3 linked regions of the Homo sapiens genome follow. The protein of the gene in region 1 interacts with the protein of each later gene in a pairwise test. Each region holds a gene or a part of one and is shown in the gene's direction. Other genes may lie near its edges. The genes, in order: UFM1, TSC22D2 and KCTD21.

What was found.
Region 2: the proteins of UFM1 (region 1) and TSC22D2 interact in a two-hybrid assay, tested with the Homo sapiens proteins (one study listed by BioGRID).
Region 3: the proteins of UFM1 (region 1) and KCTD21 interact in binary tests that used the Homo sapiens proteins (3 or more experiments, as listed by UniProt).

Annotation. Positions count from the first base shown.
Region 1 is NC_000013.11:38,345,852-38,352,946, forward strand, and holds the start of UFM1 (ubiquitin-fold modifier 1), read left to right. Parts: upstream 1-3,999; 5' UTR 4,000-4,068; coding exon 4,069-4,070; intron 4,071-4,147; coding exon 4,148-4,204; exon of another isoform or gene 4,205-4,263; coding exon of another isoform or gene 4,264-4,376; intron 4,377-7,095. UniProt on the Homo sapiens protein: Ubiquitin-like modifier which can be covalently attached via an isopeptide bond to lysine residues of substrate proteins as a monomer or a lysine-linked polymer.
Region 2 is NC_000003.12:150,411,298-150,418,405, forward strand, and holds part of TSC22D2 (TSC22 domain family protein 2), read left to right. Parts: coding exon 1-11; intron 12-7,108. UniProt on the Homo sapiens protein: Reduces the level of nuclear PKM isoform M2 which results in repression of cyclin CCND1 transcription and reduced cell growth.
Region 3 is NC_000011.10:78,185,552-78,193,358, reverse strand, and holds the start of KCTD21 (BTB/POZ domain-containing protein KCTD21), read left to right. Parts: upstream 1-4,732; 5' UTR 4,733-4,786; exon of another isoform or gene 4,787-4,835; intron 4,836-7,807. UniProt on the Homo sapiens protein: Probable substrate-specific adapter of a BCR (BTB-CUL3-RBX1) E3 ubiquitin-protein ligase complex mediating the ubiquitination and subsequent proteasomal degradation of target proteins. Promotes the ubiquitination of HDAC1.

The DNA of each region.
Region 1 (7,095 bases):
ATGAATATATAGGGATAGGAAGTATCTTTATCTGCTCAATTTTGCTGTGAACCTAAAACTGCTCTAAAAAATAAAGTCTATAAAAAAATACTCTGGGCTGGAGAAAGGAGGAGAAGAAAATGATAAACATTGTAAGGTCTCCCCGAAATATGGCCCTATTCCTTCATCCCTAGGGAAACAATCTCTAGGGAATTTCAGAATCAGAGAAAAGATGCCCAGTTCCTGCTCCCATTGAAGCCCAGGAAGACAACAAAGTTCCCTTCATTCTAGGGAGAAAACATGTTATCTTTAGTCAAAGATGTCTGAGCTCTTCTGGGTTCCCTATAGCCACAGGGTGGTACAAGAGGGCACTTTTCTTACATCCCTTAGAGACAACAAACAGTCCTAAAGTCGTCTTGCCAGCACACAAAAAGGAGTGATATCACCAGACAAAAATGAGATGTCATGTGTCTCAGATGTTTGGAGTGGACACAAATATCACTGAGAATATGGAGAGATGATGACAAAGGACCAGACGTCACAGTCCTCTGAAGCCTGTATTCTACATAAAACTGCAAGAAGAGTCATGTGGGGAGAAACTACAAATGGATCTAAAAATCTCAACTTGAATCAGAAAACCTTAAGTTAATAGAGAAAAGTAAAAATAGAACATTAATATTTACCTCATTTAGCTGGTGGAAGGATAAAAATATGTAAATGTGGAAAAAAAAAACTCATGGTTGAAATGGATTTGTCAGAGGCTACTTCAGTTTTTCTAAAAGTAATGTTTCCATTAAATGAAGAATTCGCACAATATTTAGAGAGAAAATTTAATTATACCAGACTGTTAAATTCCTGTTTTTCACAGTTCAAAATGCCATTTTGTAATAAAGATATTTTACAAATTCTGTGGTTAAAATATTCCACGTTTTGTGATTAAGCCTCAAATTTAGAAACATTGTAGTCAATGAGCTTCGTAGAAAAGTCATTTCTTTTTCTCACTGAATTTTAGAAAATATTTGGGAAAAATATGTAACTGTAACAATCAAATGTAGCACATTTAGAGCTATAGTCTTCTGTAAGGGCTTGCCTGGACTTGCTAGGCTCCGATCTCACCTGGGTTTCATTGTTCTTTTTGACTCAAAGGAATGTAAATATTCTCTAACCTTCTAGTCCTTACCTTGAAAAATAACACAGCATTTACATATTCCCAAGTACTTCTGTAACCAAATCCACTCTCTCCTCTTTGTATAAGGCTTCTTGTCACTAAATTATGACTTATAGCCAAGGCATCAAAGTTTAAAGTCTATATTTTGTCATTGATTTGTACAAAGTGGTTAATACCAGCCAAAAATAAATCTTAATGAATTTTGAGTCATTATTATCATTGCTTCAATTATATCAATGCCTTTTAGTGGATTTTGAGGGGAGAAAAGGCAATAGAAAAAAATGAACAAATTAAAGTACTATTAAAATACCAGTCAATTATTAATTGATCAGTCTATAATTTGTTCCCTGTAATATAAAGTATTTGGAATAGAACACCTTAAGATTTATTCAGGTGCAGATGTTTCAAGATTACATAATTTGACTATCAGATGGTTCTAGTCATAATCGTAAATACAATCAAATTATGGTGAAAATGAAAGAATTTTTTTTGGCATCCAGAGGAATATAAAAAATAAAGTTGGCTATAAAAATAACTAGTCAGAAGAATTTCTATGACTATGGAAGCAAATCTTTTTAGTCCTTATGTAAATTTAATTTCCTTCTGGCTTTCTTCTAATAATGGGAAATTTATATGCATTTGCAAATAGAATATTGGTATGCTTCATTGACATTTAATGAGGTCTAACATGGTCACACTGTGCACTTCTACAGTCATTTCTGCCTCTACATGATACTAATTGGATCTTTTCCAAAACACATTAGGCCATTTATGCTATTTGTTGTCTTAAAATGTTCCATTGCCAATTATCTCCAAAAATTTGCTCCAGAGTTTGCTTCTGATTACAGCCATTAAACGTACTTCAACATTTTAACTTTTCAGTAAAAGAGAAGGTCCTTGTTTTGCTATAAAATTTTCCAATTGCAAATCCCTTCACAAAGTTAAAAAAATTGATTATAAATAAATCCATTTATAATTTCTTTCTTGTCCTAAGCAAAATAAAACTCAGGAGGCTGCAGAAATCATGCTGTGACTCTGAGGAGACAAACATGAGAAGCAGAGTTGGGGACTGAGGTGAAAAAGAATTCTAAATATTTAGAAACAGCTGCTTTTTAATATCTCAAGAGATGTTATTTTGATATATTATACAAATGTATTTTCTGAAGCAGCAGAATCTGAGTACTAAAGTCACACTGTGGGACTGAATTCTGTTTTCACCACTTTTTATACATACAATAAAAGCTCTCTGATTAATATCCATTTTTCTCTTTAGGATTTTGCCACGTTTTGATTCATGAGCAGAAACCAAACTATAAATAGCAGGATGCAAATTTTGTTTCAAAATATATTATATGTAGTCTTATAGACTGTAAATATGTACACTCATCTCTTTCATTATTATTTGGCTAGCTGACAATAGGTAGACACAATCACAGTTTTATCCTTATTACTATTCTCACAAGTTTTAGTCACACCCACTAATTGAATAGTTTCAGCTATTAAGGCTGTAACTGTTGATCCCTGTATCTGTCAATCAATATTTGGCTTCATCTACATATATGGTAAGACCATTATTTTAAAAAGTGAGGATGGCTGTCATGAGAATGTTGGAGTCTTACTTGCCTACTCAGAACCAGAACTCTCTCCACTGGGAAATGTCACCATAGAAGATCAGTTGGCTGCAAAATTATTGTAAAGATGAATTTGATCTCCATTATCCCTACTACAGTTCCTTCCTGGTTCCTCTCTTAAGTATCTCTCCTTAAGAATCTGATGCATATTCTAAAGATCAACTAGATTGCCCCATTATTTTAATGCCTACCTGCTTCCTCCTTTGTCTATTCATGCTAATGTTTTAAAAGGGCATTTCAGTCATTGTGAGACAGACGCATATTTTCCAAACACAGAGGTTTAGATCTGTAATAAAGTTTAGAGGACAATTTTCTTCCGTCATCACTACACAGGATGTTAGATCCTAGAGAGTTGACGCCTACCTGCCTTACTCATCTTGGATTCCCCAGAGTTTAGCTTAGCGCCGGGCAAATAGAAAGGGTTCAAAGTTGGTTGTTAAATTGAATAAATGTGGTCAGTGATTAGCAACTCAGCGCACTGGTTTAATTAGACCATATAACAAATTACTGAAATCTCCTGTTCATAGATGTGTCTTCCCAACTAGACGCCACGTTCCCCAAACGTAGAAACCTCATTTTTTCTCACCCACCCCAGCGGGAGTCTTGGCATAGATAATTCGTACTTGATAGCTCTCTTACTTAACCGAAATTCAATAGTTATAAATCAGTATCGGAAAGTAAAGCGTGAAGGAGAAACTATGAGAAATGTAAAGGATATAACAGGATTGGTTTGCTGGAAAGACGGAAGAAAACTAATGATAAAGCAGTGTTACAATTCCTGCTTCTGGAGCACCAATTAAGCTTTTCCGCGCTCAGGTTGCCTTAGAAACTTTAGAGCGCGTCCGCCCCAGCCCCGCCCCCGGCCTCGCCCCGAGCTTCGCCCCAAGTCCATCTCGCTCTTCATCCGACTACCCCATACCCTTACTTCCGCCCCAACCTGCCAACTGGAACCTAGGGTCCTACGCTCTATGCCCACGCTTATTCTGCCTGACTAAAAATATGGTAGCAAATTACCAAAGTTAGAAAGATATCTTATAAATATAATCCATACTTTTTTCTTAGATATATAAACGCAAAAGCACAAGATATTTGTAATTTAAAAGCGCCATCTAGCATGAGCTCTTAGGGCCAATTTTCAGGCAGTGCGTTGGATAGCAACAACTTCGGAGGTCCCCAGATTGCAGAGGGAGACGTGGACGTGAGTGGAGCGGGGCGGTCCCCAGCACACTAGAGGAAGTCGTGCTACCCCCGCGGAGTTGTCGTGTGTTCTGGATTCATTCCGGCACCACCATGTAAGTGTTTGCTTACCGACTGCCATAATTCCTGGTCCAGCTGCCCGACCCTGACTCTCTCCCGCTCTTTTCCTCAGGTCGAAGGTTTCCTTTAAGATCACGCTGACGTCGGACCCACGGCTGCCGTACAAAGTGTGAGTAGCTCGGCCGAGATGGGCCTTTTGGGGCCGGACAAGACGGGGCTGGGTTGGGGATGATCCGAGCTTTTCCAACAACTACCCCACGCAGTCTTCATCTCTTCACTTCATCTACTTTCCTGGCTCGCGCCCTTCCAGGAGCCTTTCCCACCGGAGCCTGCGAGGAGAGGTCCGTACTTGCTCGCTAAGTGTCAGCTTGGCAGCTTGGCCCCGTCACGAGGGTGTGGGTGTGTTTCTGATTAGTGACCTCCCCTCGGAATTCATTTGGTGGGCAGGTGGCGCGGGAGGACAGGTGGACCAGGTTCTGGTAATTTGTTGGGATTCTTAAACAGTCCCCATCTGCTGGATATTAGAAAAGCGTTTCACCGCTTTGGCCAGCTGGTTGAGGAAGTTAAGGAAGACATTCCATCTTGATAGTCAAGACTTTGAAATTACTTGAACATTTGTTATTCCGCGGCTTCTGAGTTTCGTTGTGTATGAGTAACTCAGCAGTCGGGCATCACAAAGTAATGAGACTCAGATCACACCCTTCCTATGCTGGGATTTAATAGAGTATTTGGTAGGAATGGGAAATGCAGATAGGGGATAGTTTATCCATGTGGGGCCTTTACTTATCCTTCGCAGTTGAGTGATAGATTTTAAGTAAACACTCTTGAGGTTATTGCAGTTGGAAGTAGCATGAAATGTAGCAAAGAACAGGATTACAATAGAATTTTTTGCATAATTAATTAGTACCTTGGCCTACCTAGCTGACTGATAAATTTCAATGATTTACCAATCCATGATCCGTACAACCTCTCAGCCTTTTCCTCCCTTGATCTTTTCATCTCCAAAATATCCCTGTTACACTTTATCTCAGGTGTTCATGGTTGCAGCCTAGAACCTTAAGATTCCAATAATTGCTCCATCTCTGAGATGTCGTTTACAGGCACTCTTATGGATAAATACATTCTCTCCTACATGATTTACTATAATTTCTCATCTACAACGTTTCATTTAATCCATTAATCACAGTGATTTTTTATCTGTAGCTATCCCCACTTCTATTCCTTACCTTACTCCTTATATAGTTAAGAGTCCATTGGTCCACCTTTAAATCATTCTCATGCAAACACCCTCAACTCTGGTGGCCCTGTCTCTCCTCTCAGCATATTTTGGTTAGTGAAACACCAACTCTGAAACCAGCTGTTTGTATTATCTGTACATAGCTGACTGCCCCTGGAGAAAATAACAGACTGGAGGGTTTACATTAAATTCATGACTACAATTAATAGTACCTAGTACTTAATACATTCTTCAAGTTTGCTCATTTTCCTCCTTATTCTCAGAAAAGATTGTTTAAAAATTTCAAACTTTCCACAGCTGCTGTCTCCCTTGCTATCAAGCCATCAGAGGGAAATTCTATCATCTTTACACCAATGTAAACCTACCACTACATGGATAAATCCGTTAATTTCCCATCCTGTTAGAATGGAAAAAATGACTTCACTCCTATGAAAAACCACTTGAGCTATAGTTCCCATCTATTTCAGTCTTGTCAAGGTTAAAGTAGATGGAGTCCAGTGCCCCCTCTCTCCTCATGATTGGTTTTTCCCTTTCTACTGGATTATTCTCATCAATATGCAAATGTACTCGAAAGAGAGCGTGAGAAGGAAGGAAGAAAATGATAGAGTAGGACAATAACATTAAGAGCCTGGAACATTGTACCAGTTCAGTTAATATGTGGTGACTGAATGAATTTAGTAGGTACAACTGTTGTTTAGTATGTATGTGTGCGTGTGTAGTTGTGTGTGTATGTGTATAAGGATGTGTGTGTGGAAAATTCACATAACGTGTAAATGTGTGTACAAGGGTATCTGTGCTATATTTTCTTTTCAAAGTACATGGTAACTAGTACTTGGGTACTTGACAAGCTTGCCCTTTTAATCTTTGCTTCCTTTACACATGTTCTTTTCTGTGCTTAGAATGCAGTCTCATGATCACAACATATTTTATAGTAATAAAAATCTCACCTCTATGAAGTTTGTTTTTTTTTCTTTCTTTCTTTTTTTTTTTTTTTTTGTGAAACAAAGTCTCGCTCTGTTGCCCAGGTTGGAGTGCAGTGGCACGATCTTGGCTCACTGCAACGCCCGCCTTCCCAGTTCTTCTCCTTCCTCAGCCTCCCAAATAGCTGGGACCACAGGTGTGTGCCACCTTGCCCAGCTAATTTTTTGTATTTTTAGTAGAGACGGGGTGTCACTGTGTTAGCCAGGATGGTTTCCATCTCCTGACCTCGTGATCTGCCCACCTCGGCCTCCCAAAGTTCTGGGATTATAGGCGTGAGCCACCCCTTCTGGCCAAAGATTTTTCTAATTGTCCACAGAGTTAATCTCGCCCTTCTTGAGTTACCTGTGGACTTAGTCTTTATAATAATTCTTACCAATTTATGTTATTATTTTGTTTATATATTTATTTAAAAAACAAATGATGCCAGTAATTTACTTCAAAAATTCTCATTAATGTAAATTTATTCAAAACACTGGGATAATTTAAGTACCGATTTTATGAAATGACTGGCAAATACAACTTTAAATCTAGATAAGATCTGTGGAGTCACTGTAACTCTCATTTTTTCTAATTTTCTGCCAGTTAGAACTTGCATTAAAAGATGTTTTCATTTTTGATTTGTTTTTATTGGCTTGTCTGTGGACACTCACCAACTTAATATACAGATAGAAACTTATTTTAATGAGCATCAGTATGACATCTAGGTATATTGTAAGGACATTTCCAAGTCTCCGATTTAAAAGTGAATTGAACTCCAAGGGTTTAGAAGTTCTCCAATTGATGCAGAGTTTTAGGAAAATGAATCTCAGATTCTTAACTACATATACACTGCAAAAATACTT
Region 2 (7,108 bases), on another chromosome or scaffold:
GATGAAGACAGGTATGGAAATCTCTATTTTAAATATTTGATAGAAATGCTTGGCCAACATTGTAGCTTAGGATGCAACTTTGGGAGATTGTTGTCAACGGAGGCCCTTAGCATTTTTAAATACAAAATTTAGTTTTTGGTAAAATTGATTTAGATTGCTGATGCTGATGTCAAAGGGTGTAATGAGCGAATTGGTCTTGTCACCGTTGTTTAAAAGCACTAAAATGGGTAGGGATGCAACATTGTTTACTCAAAAAAAGGTGAATTTAAGCTTAATGCTTACCATTTAATGGTGGTAGCTAGTGTGTTATGCTCCCATAGAATTGTCCTTTTCTTACATATCAATCACACTTGAACACGTAAGGCAGAGAGATTTGTCAGTGTGAGTTTTGAGGCTGAGACATAATAATACTACAAGTTTTCCTTTCTGGAAAACCAGAAGGTCCTCTAGTGAAAAAAAAAATCTATGTAAGGAATCTTCTCCAGTGTATCTGGAAAGGCTGGAGACATAATGGTGAAATGTCAAATCCGGCTTTGAAGATCATACTTAGTTCAGCCTTTTGATTAAAGGAGGTACAAGGTCACGAGTCTTCCCAGGGACTTCTCTAAGATACTATTTTTTTGTTGTTAAGCAAAAAATGTACTGGAAAGATATTCTTACTTTCCATCAGTCTATTTATTATAGGAAAGGGAGGTTGAGATCGATCCTTTAACTGTAGTGAAAGCTATAGTTCTTGAAATTAAGAGTAATTTTATAATAAAAGTGTAAATGTTAATAATTGGCTCCCTGTATTTAGGGATGCTTTTTTTAATGGCCTAAATAAGAATTAGTGTATTGCTACACCAGTGCCACAACAGCTGATGTTTGGTTATGGTTTAGTGAGGATTTTTGTGGTTTTGAGGAGATGTCACATGTAAATTTGACATACATATTGCAAAATTTTAAAAGCTGACTTGTTGCAATGTTTTAAAATTATATTTAAAAATTATAGAAAAAGTTTCAGGAATTTCACAGTTAGACATTTCTTTGCTGGGGTTTTTGTTTAGCGAGAGGCTAATTTTAGGTGTTTTTAAAAGATACAAACTAATATTATGGATTTCCAGAATAATTAGTATGTGGAAGAATACAATGACATGTATGTTAAAGCTTTCTCTTCCTATGGTTTCTTCTGAGTTCCTTCACATTTCTTAACCTCCCATTTCTAATTAGCCTTGTATTTTTGTTATATACTTCTGTTGGTTTGAAAAATACTCACTGACTGAAATTCATTCATCTTCTCTGCTTTTTGTAATTTAAAGTTCATCTTTTTTTGTAGGTGACTTGCTTATGGGGAGTCTTTCTTCACTTGAGAACGCTTAGAGAATACCACGTGTCCATAAGTGAGCTCAGCTAGCTAGTCATTGAGAAATTTTGTGTGTGTGGGACTACTAAGTAAACTGACTCCACAAGCCACTCAGAAAAATCCCTCTACTTTTATAGTTGCTCCCATTGTCACACACAGGGACACACCTGTAACACAGATTGAGTTTATTTTTTCACCTTTGGTAATAATCAACAGGCATCTTCACTTTTCTAGCTGCCACAAGCCAATTTTTTCCTGATAAGTTGGCAAATAACCTTTTGCTTTCCTCTGTTCCTGTATACTGCCCATATCTCTTCAAGAAATGATGACTGGTTTCCTGAGCTACCCCGCTTTCTATACACACACACACCCCTCCACCCGAGAATGCAGATTACATTTTCCCTTCTGTGCACACCTCTCTCAGTTTACAGCATCCATACTTAGATTCCTCAGAACTTTAGTACGATGATAAGGCATGAAGCAGAGACTTCTGTTGATAGATGGAAACTGAAATGTATTCTTTAGGGTATGACATCAAAAATGCATTTATTTTTTCCTCTTACTGTATTAAGAGTTGGTAATCTGAAAACTCTGATTTCCAAATTTGTGAATGGTTGAACTACAGATACTACTGTATCAGTGTTCTTACCAATTGCAACAGTTAATTCAGTGCAGGGGTTTTGATGTATGTACAGTCCTATTTTAAACATGACACTTCCCTCCCTTGCCCCAATCATTTAAAATCTACATTGCTTACCAATGTTCATTTCTGATTTTTGTTACAGTCTTTCATTGGTTTTTAACTTGACATGCTAGTTTCCAAGATGTAATCTTACACATTTGACTGTTTTGTCACTGGTCCAACATACCTGGTGAAGGAATAAATCCATTAGGTAGAAATAGTTGGGTTTTTTGTTTTGTGTTTTTTTTTTTTAATAGAAAGCTTTGGTTAAAAAAAAAAAAAAGAACAGGGTATTTTAAAATTTTGTGTTTGAAATTAAATAACAGTTTTCCAGGCATATGTTTAAATTACTGAGATGAGTACTTTTGAGGAGACTACTATCTTAACTGAAAATTTTAATTTTAATGTGATTTTGGGTTGCCGCCTTAAAATCTGCATGTTTTCAAATTTGAAATAAAACCAACTGGAGTGAGAGGTCTTGACTAATTGTGATTTAAACTTTGCAAGTAGTTTGACAAATTTCAGATCCTAAGGAAATATTTGTAAATAAGATATATGCTTTTTTTAAAAAAAAATTAGGACTTTAGTAAACAGTCTATTTCTTTGAGAAAAGAAAGGAAAATGGGAAATTAACAAAAAGATTGAGGTGGTTTAGGTTGATACATTGAAAACTCTTATCTTGAGATTTTGGTTCCATTACCTAATGCAAAGTTCTATATTGGCTTAATTTTGAGATCATTTATAATTAAAGAACCGGGCCTTATAGTAATACATCTTAATATTATCACACCTTTAAAAGGCTGATGGTTGTATATGCAAAAAGTTCTCAATTAGCATTGCCTATTGACTCTACATTATTAATTACCATAAAGTTTATCTTTCTGGCCATTTTCATTAGAAAGGTTTATGGTCAGTTGTTGAGACTCTTCAGATTGATTTTGTGTAAACTCGTGGATGTGATGGTTGAAAATACAGTCCTTAAATATGTAGCTACTTTTATAGTGAACTTTACAAAACTTGTTTAAACTACGTACACACTTAACAGTCTCCTGTAAATGAGAGGAGGTGCAAAATATTACTGGCCCTTTTGGAAAAGGAACACAGTACAGATCACTTTCCATAGATAGCCAACCAATGTGAACTCTGTAGGCCGCATTCCAGGAACTCTTATGAATGGCTGCAATTGTGAGCTGTCATCTGTGGCCAAAAGACTGTTGAAAACCTGATTCTAAGGATCCTTTGGTGGCAGATATTTCTATGTCTTGTTAATGGTTTTATTTGTGTGGTTTGCTAATGATCACTGATAAAATATTATACATTGTGAATGTTAAGTGGTGTGTCCTGGTATGTGCCATAAATACACATTTTGTTTGTACATTTATATATATTTTAAACCAAATTCTGCTGCTTTTTTTACTTGAAGTTTAAGTGAGAGGATTAAGTAAATGTATACCAGGAGGCAGAACTGTCTCAGTCTTCGACCTCTGTTGTATGAAAGTCTCACTGAATTGAAGTCTCTAAAGATGGAAATTTCTTACTTGAATCTCTGTTTCTTGGAAGCTGACATTTATCTGTTAAATTGTGAAGGTAATTTTGCTCTTGTAGGTTTACAGTTGATGTCTGAATCACATACTAGATACTATCCTATGCCTATCTACACGTTTAAGAGTGTTCTTACTGAGGAGTTAGTAGTAAAAATGTAAATTCGTATATATGTGTCATTATTGTTTAGCATAAAAACTGATACTGATGTATTCATCAGGGATTACTGATGGATACCACATGGATTACTAAAACATACTTTATTCATAAACGTGGCTTGAAATAAAAGAAATGACAGATTTCCAAAAAGGCTTACGATTTTCCAAACTACCCGAAATTCCTAAACCATGAGCTATATCTGTAGGAGTGTGGCCTTTTATATTCACAGTGACACATACTGTATAAAATTTTATGTGCACTAAATCATATAGGCCAAACATTGGTAAATTTTTTTAGAAAACATGATGGCTTATATGTGTGTGAATAATACAGATTTCCAGCTGACTATTTTAGTAACACTTGTTTTTTCTTTTTAGGAGATCACAACCCCTGAACTAAATCACCTTTATGAGAAGTCATTTTATATAGGACTGGTGGTAGGGGTATATATGTCCTCTACTTCCTGAGAATAAATATAATGCCAATTCATTTGTTATTTAAGAATCCTGGGCCAGGAGCGGTAGCTCATGCCTTGTAATCCTGGCACTTTGAGAGACCAAGGTCAGAGGATTGCTTGATGCCAGGAGTTGGAGACCAGCCTGGGCAACATAGCGAGGCTTTGTCTCTACAAAACATTTAAAAATTAGCCAGGTCTGGAGGCCAACACCTATAGTCTTAGCTACTTGGGGAGGCTGTAGGAGGAGGATTGCTTGAGCCCAGGAGCTGGAGGCTACAGTGAGCTATATTATAATATTGCACTGAAGCCTGGGCCACACAGCAAGGACCTGTCTGTAAAAAGAAAAAAAATAATTCTGATAGCACTAATTTGGAAATAGTGAAATATGGTACTGGATCTATGAATCTGGTACTTCCTAATTAGGAATGGGAGTCTATCTTTCTCTGCACCAGAAAAGATCAGAAGCAGTTATGAACAAATAGCAGCCCCACCAATCAAGTAGTAGAGAAACCCAAATAAATCTGTTTCCTAATAAAGGAATGGTAGTTAGGAAAGTATAAAAGGAATCTGACCTTCCTTTCCTAAAATGGCAGGAGTTGGGGAAGGGGAAGTGTAGAATGATAGCAGATAATCAAAATGGAAGAAAGTACAGTGGAGTGGCATGAAATATAGTCTCAAAAGAAATAGGAACACTTGTGAATACTGAGGAATGGTGTTCTAATTCTTTCTTTGAAGAATTGTTTTAGTCCAGTGTGTATTTCCTTTTCTGAAGATTCTGTTTATTTCTTAATTGCATTACTCGTTAAATACTTAAAGTATGAGGAAGGAGAGGCCTTACAAAAGCAGGTCTGTCTGGTTAAACATAGCCTGAATGATATTCCGTAAGTAATTCCTTAAATTGGAAAAGCAGATTTTTGGTAAGAAATATTAATCATATTTAAGGAGTATGTGTAGCAAAACTCCTAAATTAGAATAAATTATTTAAGTGTATGGTTTTTCTTTATACTAAACCAGTGGGCTTGTGATTTGAGGCTACTGTTTTCGATGGTATTGTATTGAGTCCACAGAGAATATGTATACCTGAATCATTGGTATAATGTCTTTCCCACAGCAATTCTTGAACATATCAAATTACTCGATATTTGTTATATTCTTAATCTGGCATTGCTTAGGGCAAAAACTGGGTGTCCCTCATAAAAAGGTAGGAACAGTAGCCAGTTTGCACCATTCCTATACATTATTCCATGACTTTAGGAAGTATACTTTGAGGTATACTCTTCAGATTTGGTTTAATAATATTAAAGGTATATTGATGGATTGTTTCCTGTATGAAAGTATTGCATGATTTCTGCTCTTAAATCAGGTGAATTAAATTTCATCTGGATTGCTTATCTCAAATTTAAAGCCTCAAATCAGACTTAAATAATTAGTATTTAGTATTTAGTTTGATTCCTTTGTACCCAAGCTAATTTTTGTTTAAAAAGAAAAAGTGCTTCCATCCTTTTAAGTAGTACATTTATTTGTGATGTTAGTGAAAGTTCTGCAGGTAACTGAGTTAATTTTATTAGTGTTTGCCTGGGACATATACCTATTATTAGGGTAGGCAGGACAAATAAGTAAAGTCTAAATGTTAAATTACTTAAAGCTTCTTTTCCCATAAGCCTTTCCTAAAATTTGTCTAAAGAATATTGCTTTGTAGAAGATGGAGTTTGTGATTAATGTGTCAATTATTGTAAATAATGATGGCATAGTTTTAAATGTTAGTTTTAGGCTGTTCATCTTATTACACAAGTATATAATTTAATCTGAATAAAGGATTCCCAAAGGTAAGTGTAAAGCCTCTAGTTTCTAAAGTAGAGTTAGTATTTAGTTTTTATCAAGTGGTTTTATATGTTAAAGCAAAACAAATCTTTGCTTGGCATACCGTCTACCTAGTCTTTGAAGACAAAACAAAGGAGGGAGGAGCTGTTTTGATCAAATAAAACCAATAGCGTGTTTAATTATGTGTTAACATATGTGAATGACCATTACAGAGACAGTAGAGTCAGACATACCCGGGCTAAAATCTAACTGCTACATTTGACTTTGAGCTAGTTGGTGTAGATGCCTTGTTTCCTCTTATGAAAAATGGGGATTGTACCTACCTGGGAGAGTTTTAAGGAATTAAATGATGTGTGCAAGTAATTTGAACAGTCTGTAACATAATATATGTGGCAAACGTGTATCACAGAAATGTTAATATTTCAGTGTCCAAACTGCTCTCCCAGATCACCCCTTTACATGTTATAAATCATACCAAGAATCTTCCATTTTAATATGAAAGCGTAATTGTATGGTATGGATGTAGTCAGAAAAAAGGAGATGATGTTTTAGTCTAGACGAGTCATGATGTTGTAAGAAGTATAGGGAATTGTGTTCCAGTCCTGGCTCTTCTATCATTTAGCTGGTTTCTTTGGTCAAGTCATTTCACTTGTCTGTTTTTCTTTTTTGAGACTTTGTCAAATTTTAAGATTCCTTCTAGCCTTATGTATATGAGACCATACATTCAAGTGTGCTTCATGAGAGAACTGCAAACTTAAACTTTCTTCTTTTTACCCCTTTCCTGCCACTTGACTATTGTGTGGCAATAAATGAAGTTTGTAAATACTCATTAAGTAGGTTGATTGCCCAAGAAAACATTTAAAACAGCTTATCAGTCATTCAGCTTTCATGATGCTCTGTGAGTAGTGAGCACTGGAATACAAATATGAGACTATGCTGCCCTCCTAGATCTCAGGCATTTTCATCATCATGAAAATGATGATCAGATGTATACTTTGACATACATTGGAGGTGGTGATGGAGTAATATAAGGTGCTAATGGGAACAATTTGAGACATCAGATCAGATTGGGATTGGGAGGGTAGTAGACTGACTTCTATTTAAA
Region 3 (7,807 bases), on another chromosome or scaffold:
TTAGCCAGGCGTAGTGTCTCACACCTGCAGTCCCAGCTAGTTGGGGCTGAGACAGGAGGCTCACTTGAGCTTGGGAGGCGAAGGTTGCAGTGAGCTGAGATCACGCCACTGCACTCCAGCCTGGGTGACTAAGTGAGTTCCTGTTTCAAAAAAGAAAAAAGAAAAAAAATTTTTTTAACTCTCCCTTCAGCCCTGGTCCCCTTTCTAGGCAGTGCCCGTGACAAGGCAGTTGCTGTGGCCAACCTCCCCCACACAAACAGTCCATCCTCCCAGACCCCTGGGATGGCTAGTGGATTTCATATGCTTTCAACCCAGGATGCCAAGAAATCCTGGTACTCAGGCAGCCAAGAAGAAACCCTAATCCATGAGGCACTGGCATCATGTGTGAAGCAAGAGGGCATGGGGGCAGGCAGAAATGGAGTTCTGGAGACAGGGAAGACTCTGGTAGTAGAAAGAGTACTAGAAAGAGTAGAAAGAGTATCAGACTAGGAATGAGGAGTCCTACATTCTAGCCCTGACTCATTGTGTGACCCTCAGTAAATCATACCCATGAGCCTCTTTTCTGTAAAATGGGGACAAATGCTATTAGACTGAACCGCATGAAACCGAATGATCAAATGTTGGCAATTTCATGTTGTTCTACCTAACACCACATAAGCCTGGCAGCTGACAGTTCAAATAGAGCTGCTCCATGAGAGCTCTGATCTCCAAGGCCAGCCGGCAGCCTCTGCTCAGTCCGTAGCCTGGCCACAGCAAGCAAGCCCTGCCCACCTGCCCCAACTCCCACGCAGGCAGTCTGAGGACAGCTGTCACCATGGTCACCAGCAAACCCACTCAATATCTTGCATGCACTCAGACAAAAGGGTTTTAGAGGCTTGCACCTCACCTGGCCCCATCAGGCCAGGGAAGGGAGGACAAGGCCAGCTATCCCACTGGCAGGAATGAAGAAAGTGAGGCTCAGAGAGAGGAACATGGCCTTGGCAAAGCAGGATTAGAACCTGCACTCTGCCTCCCTCAGGAGGGCTGGATTAGCCTGCTAAGCCCCGGGTGAGGAGATGGCCTGTCCATGCTGGCTCTGACTCAAGAGACAGCTGCCCCGCACCAACCGCAGCAGCAAACAGCAGCCATGTCCTCCCCGAGGAGAGCCTGTGTTAAAAGCTGAAGATACAGGTTTTCTGCTTCAAAGTCATGGTGACCTTGGGTGAGCCCCTGCCTGGCTTCTTAGCCTTCTCATCTGGAAAATGGGGACTATTCCAAGCCTACCATTCACAGGGTTGAGACAAGGTATAAAAAAGATGAGGTCCTCATTAACACGGTGAAACCCCATCTCTACTAAAAATACAAAAAATTAGCCGGGCGTGGTGGCGGGCACCTGTAGTCCCAGCTACTCAGGAGGCTGAGGCAGGAGAATGGCGTGAACCCAGGAGGCGGAGCTTGCAGTGAGCCGAGATCATGCCACTGCACTCCAGCCTGGGGGACAGAGCAAGACTCCGTCTCAAAAAAAAAAAAAAAAAAAAGATGAGGGCCGGGCTGTCATGAGTCTATTTTTGGGCCACCTGGCACTGATGGGAGACACAGATACTGTCAGGGAAAGGAGACAAGGAGACACGCACTGCTGATCCTGCTGATTCTCCAAGGCATTTCCTCCATTAGCCCTCCCTGCCACTTCGGTGTTCCCAGCCCCACCCAGGATCAGACCCCTTGACTTCTTGCCTGGACTAGTGCAGTAGCCTCCTAACCCATCTCCCAATTCCCTCCCTCAATCCATCCTCCAACAGAGGCATGTGTCCTAGAGGAGAACAGAGTCCAGGCTTCGAGTCTAGCCCAGCCACCATGGAGGTAGGTGTTCTTTTACCTCTGTGATCCTCGGAATGCCCAAATAGAAGGTGACTACGTGCCCACCCCTTAGCCTTTCCCAGCCAGCGCTGCTGCTCCTCCCAAGCCCTTGCCTCATACCCCTCGCCCTACTGGCATGACAGCCTGAGGGGCGTCCCAGCAACACCAGCACACTCCAAGGCACGCAGTGAGCACTCAGGAAAATCCCAATCCCTCTGCCAAAAGGCCCAGATCCTTTCACCTGTTCCTCTCGGATGACCCTCAACATTTCTGCCGAGTGTTGACTGATCTCTGCTCCTGCACAGTTGAGCCTGACTTATCTCCATCACCCCAAAGCACCCTGTGTGTGTGTGTGTATGTGTGTGTACACAACTCCTATGCTCAGCCCCACTGCCACGCCCTGGGCCCCCGCTCAAGCTTCATCATCCCTCCTTGGTCTCTCCAGATGCAGCATCGTCAGATGGAGCTTATTACACGGTAAGCACCATTCCGTCCATGCCCCTGCTCAGAACTCTCAACACTCTCCAGCCCCTTGGACCCAGAATAAGGTCCAAACTCCTGAGCCGGACATGCAAGCCCTTTCTGTGACACTCAGCTGATGTGGGGCAGGGGTGGAGATGAACTCAAGCAACATTGTTCAGTGGAGACTCTGCAGACATTGGAGCAGGGGGCTTTTTCCTGACTGCTACTTTGCACAATGTCCCCTCTACTGAAAAAGGGCTTTTCCCTCTTCTCTCCTGGAAAATTCTGACTCACCCTTCAATGCCCAGCTCACATGCCCTCTCCTCTGGGAAGCCTTTCCTTTTCCCTCCACAATTCAAGTGTCTAAAGTTCTGGCCTCCAAGGCCCTCTTAGCTATTCTCATCCCTCTGCAGCATAACTGGAATCCATGTCTCTGTCTCCCACCAGGCTGGGACCTCCCTTGGCAGAGGTCCAATCCCCGTCTCTGAGCCCAGTGCCCAGTACAGAACCAAGGACTGAGGTGTCCGTGAAGGTGCGTCAAGCAACTCATGAGAGACATGTGACAGCAAGATGAGAGAAAACCAAAGATGTAACCACAAAAGTACCTTCCAGAAACTGGCCTAACCTTTGGTCCAGTCACCACCCCCTCCTTTGCCCAGGCCTGGTCTTGCATATCAAAAACCCTGAAAATCTTAAACATCAGTCAAGAAAGCCCCTACAGAGGTCACTGGACTGGACTGAGGCTTTAGCCATTCTAGAAATTGTTCAAACAACCAAAGCAAAAGAAAAAGCACAAAACAAAAACAAAACAAAACAAAACAAAAATCTGTTCCTGGTTAGCCTTCAGGTCAAAAGCTCACAGAATCTCCTAGGACCTGAGAAGAAGGCTTCATGGTGTTACTCAACCTCTCCCTGCTCCAGGTCAGAGCAGCCCCTCCCAGCCTCTGCTCAGCACCTAAGAGCTGAGGAGCACATTTCCTCCCCTCTCTGACCCTCGAAGCCAGCCTCCCTCCTTTGACTCCCCTGGGAGCCAGAGCTTCCTTGGGGGTACCAGGCTGCCCCTCCCGACACCAGGTGGTGCCCTCCATCTCTGGCCCCTCAGGTGTCTGAATGGCAGCATCTCTCTAGGTATTTTTTAACTGAACTTCTACCCAAGGCAACCCTGGGAAGAAGTGCTTCACCCTACTCCGGGAGGCCCATGTCTGGGCCACCAAACTGTCTCCTGGAAAGAAAAAGAAAAAAGGGTTTCACTGGTAAAAAGCAGCTGCTCTTCCTCAAAGGATAAGGAGGAGAGAGAAGGGAAGAAAGCAGGAGCAGCTATTCCTCCTCAGGAACCCACCACACACACCTATCCCTGCGGGGCCACCCCTCACAAACCTGTGAGGGCCGCACTCCACCCCAAGCTTTCTGGAAGGAAGGGCACCAAGCTGACACATCAGGGTCTCCGGTTTGCAAGGGCCAGGGCCGTAAGAGGGGGTTGGGGAGGGTATCCCAGGGCCCAGCACACTGAGAATAGGAAAAGCCCATTCCAAGCAATGGTGGCCTCGGGCCCCCCAGTTTGTGCCACCTCCCTCCCTCCAGTGCACCCGCGCCCAGCCCACGCTTGAGCTGGAGGGCCCCACGAAAAGCCAGCAAGCGAATGTACTAGGTACTGGGTGCGAATGCCCTCTTACCTGAAAGGGGAGGGAGCAGGATCACTTCGACATACAATTGATGAAGGGAGGGGATTAATGCCCAGAGAGGAATAGCTACTCGCCCAAGGTCACACAGTGAGGCCCAGGAGGCCCAGGATGCACCCAGATCTCCCGACTCCCAGCCCTGGGCTCGCAAGTCCAGGGTTCTCGAAAGGCCAGGGTGCAGACACCGCCCCCCAAAGACAGTCACACGCCCCCAACCCCCTTACCTCCCGGACCCCGGTGGGCCAGAGCCGGCTGCTGGGCGGGGCGCTCAGGCCGGGCAGGACGAGGCTGGGCCCGGCTAGGTCAGGGCTGGTCCTCTGCTCCCCCCAGGGTGGGGACGCCCTCAGCCAGGTCCCAGACGGAAGAGATGCTGCTTCCACTGCAAAATCCAGTCTTCCCACCCCGCCTGGCACAAGCCTCTATGTATCCAGGAAGCCCGACTCTGCGGCGCGGCCCCGGGGCTGCGGGATGAAGCATGGGGAGGGGCGAGGTGCGTGAAATGGGGCGGAGCCGGAGCGGGGGCCACCCCGCGAGCTGCCACTCTGACCGCGTCCCCTTTAAGGCCAGCCGGCCGGACACCGGCGGGGACGAGGCGGGGCGCAGAGCAACTCGCTGCAATGCCTCCTGGGAGATGGAGTTCGCTCTCGACGCGCCGAGCTGCGAGGAGCCCAGAGAGAACTACCAGTCCCGGAAGGCAGCGCACAGACCCCGGACCGCCACGCCCCTGGGCTGGGCTCCTACCCTCCGCCCCCCTCGCAAAGCTGCGCTGGCCGCTCGCGGAGGGAGAGGCTGCAGAGCGAGGGCAGGAGGTGGGTGCGGCACGGCCGGGGTCGCGGGGCTCGGGGACTACCGGCGAGGGTACGTGGGCCCACTGAGCACCTGTCTTACCATGAGACTAATCTATCCCAGCCTCGCCATTCCCATCTGTGAAATGGGGATGGCATCGCCTGTGGTGCGGGGGAGGGGGCGCGTTTCGGAGCGAGGTGAGCCGAAGTGGGCAGAGCTCTTAGAGGGGCGGGGCTGTTGGGAGAGCAAGGGCGGATGGTGATAGTCGGAAAAGCCCGGATAATGAGGGTCGGGACTGTGGGAGGAGTCCTTGGTGGGTGGGGCAAGGAGAGGCGGGATCTCTAGGTGGGGGTGGGGCACTTGTCAGGTCGGAGTGGGGGCTGTAGGGCTGGGGAGTGGGTGCGGAACAAGCCGATGAGGCCAGCCTGGGTGAGATTGGGGAAGGAAGGGCGGAGACACAGATGACAGGGAACTTGCCCCGCTCTGGAGAGCCCTGGGCCGGCCGCGCTGTGGCGGCGTGGGCAAAAGCCTGTGATGCATAGAACACCTCCCTTTACTGACTGGAAATAAAGAGTCCATCCCCGAGTTCAGTGCGGCACACCAGTGATCTCATTGACCTCCCACGCCCTGAAAAGTAGAGGCGTCACTATAGCGGTTGACAGGTGAGGAATGTGAGGCTCAGAAAAGCGAAGGGACTTGCCTAAAACCACTCAGGACTCCTTACTTCAAAGACCTTGCTTTTCTCCCTGCACTCGGGGAGGCAGAGGTTTAGCTTGGCGTGGGAGGCAGGAAAGAAAAGTTTTGATGCCCCGACCTTCGCAAATTGTCTGGCAGGACCAGTCCCCCCAACCCTTCCGAATGACAGCCTGTAAGGCAGCCCTCCTATAGTACTGTGAGGATGAAATGAGATGGATTTGAAAGCACGGTGTTTATAAATTACTGTTTGGAGGAGACATAGGAAGAGAGCGGTTTGAAATGGGGTGCTGGTGCCGGAGGAAAAGCACAAGGTGAAGCGTGAGAGTGAGCCGAGAAGGTGAAGGAAAGTTCTGGAAGGGGCTGGGGGATGGTAGTGGTTGTTGGAGGTCTACGCCAGATGAAAGAATACCTTGCCGTGCCAGATTCCGTGGTCTCCTTCTTCCAGCCCACCTTTCTCTCCTCCTGCCTTTTGCGCAGCTCATTCTGGGGTCCCTGTGTCTAGGAAGCACCTTTTCTCTCCTCCCTATGGGTTGTGATGGTAATAGAGCAGCCTTCGGATTTCTTAGAGATATGGACTGGGCAAGACAGAATTATAGACGCAGCTCTTTGATGTGGGGTGGTCAGGAAGAGGAGGTGAAGAAAGGGTAGTCGTCCTAGGGGCTTCAAGGCAAAGAGTCCTTTCTCCGGTGGGGTAAGGTGGGGAAGTCTCCCACTTACTGGAAAACACAGTACTCACTCTGAGCATTGTCTTTTTTGAAATTTACCCAGCCACGTGCTGTCCATTCCCTTACGCAGTGGAAACTCTCCTTGCATTTACTCCCAAGTAATCACCTCGGCCTTGTCACATCCCTTTAGATTCCAGATTGAAAATTGAACAGAGCATTTCAAAATTAAAAAGTTTTGAAAATCCAGGTGGGGAAAATGGATCTGACTAAACAGGAGAGAAATTTCTTCCTCTTCCCCTATTCTACGTGCTTCTGTGGATATAGAAAGGGGCACCCCCAGCCCCAGCAAGGGAGCCAGGCATCCATCTACTTAAGTAAAGTTGGCTGTGGTAAGGGGTTAGACTAAAATTCTCCGCAGATGCAGAGGAGAAGGAATGAATTCCAGCTGAGAGACCTGGCCGATGCATGGGATTTGTCTTCAAGGTCCAGGCAGAGGGGATGGCAGATGCCAAATTGCAGAAGTCGAAGAGGGCCCAGTATGGTTGGTCTGTAAAGTAGGTATATAATAGTATCTACTTAATCTGTGAGATTGAAAGAGATTAACATGTATAGAGTGCCTAGCACGGTAGTAACTGCTCAATAAACGTTAGCCATTATTATTGCCGTTGTAGTGTTTGTTGTTGTTATGATCATCATCATCTGCCCAGGAACGTGCCCAGGGCTGCACAGCTAGTAAGTGGCAGGGGATGATTCAAATGCAAACCCAGGTAATGCCGAATACCATGCATGGTCTGCCCCTACCCCACACAGCCTCTCCAGTTCTTTTCTTTTTTTTTTTTTTTTTTTTTTTTTTTTTTTTTTTTGAGACAGGGTCTTACTCTGTTGCCCAAGCTGGAGTGCAGTGGCGTGATCTCGGCTTGCTGCAGCCTGACCTCCCAGGCTCAAGCGATCCTCCTACCTCAGCCTGTGCAGCTGGGACTGCAAGCACGTGTTACCATGCCCAGCTAATTTTTTTTTTTCTCTATAGAAACGAGGTCTCATTATGTTGTCCAGGTGGTCTCAAACTCCTGAACTCAAGCGATCCTCCCACCTGGGCCTTCCAAGTGCTGGGATTACAGGCATGAGCCACTGAGCCTGGCCTGTCTCCAGTTCTTTCTGCCCATCCTTGACATTTCTGAGGCCCAGGAGTGGCCTCTCTTTGTCAACATTCACAGTGAGTCATGACAGGAGTTTCTTTCCTGCCGAGTTACAGAGATTCTGGGTTCATGATGAGGCAGGAAAAACAAGGCCTGAACAGCCATCTTCTTCCAGGCAGAATCACAGCACAGAAGATAGGCAGACCTGGCCGGGCGCGGTGGCTCACGCCTGTAATCCCAGCACTTTGGGAGGCTGAGGTGGGTGGATCATTTGAGGTCAGGAGCTTGAGACCAGCCTGGCCAACGTGGTGAAACCCCGTCTCTACTAAAAATACAAAAATTAGCCGGGCATGGTGGCACGCACCTGAAATCCCAGCTACTCAGGAGGCTGAGGCAGGAGAATCACTTGAACCTGGGAGGCAGAGGTCGCAGTGAGCCAGGATCACGCCACTGCACTCCAAACTGGGTGACAGAGCGAGACTCTATCTCAAAAAAAAAAAATAGGCCTAGTGGTGTGGTTTCTGTGGGTGGTGGCTCTATCCAGACT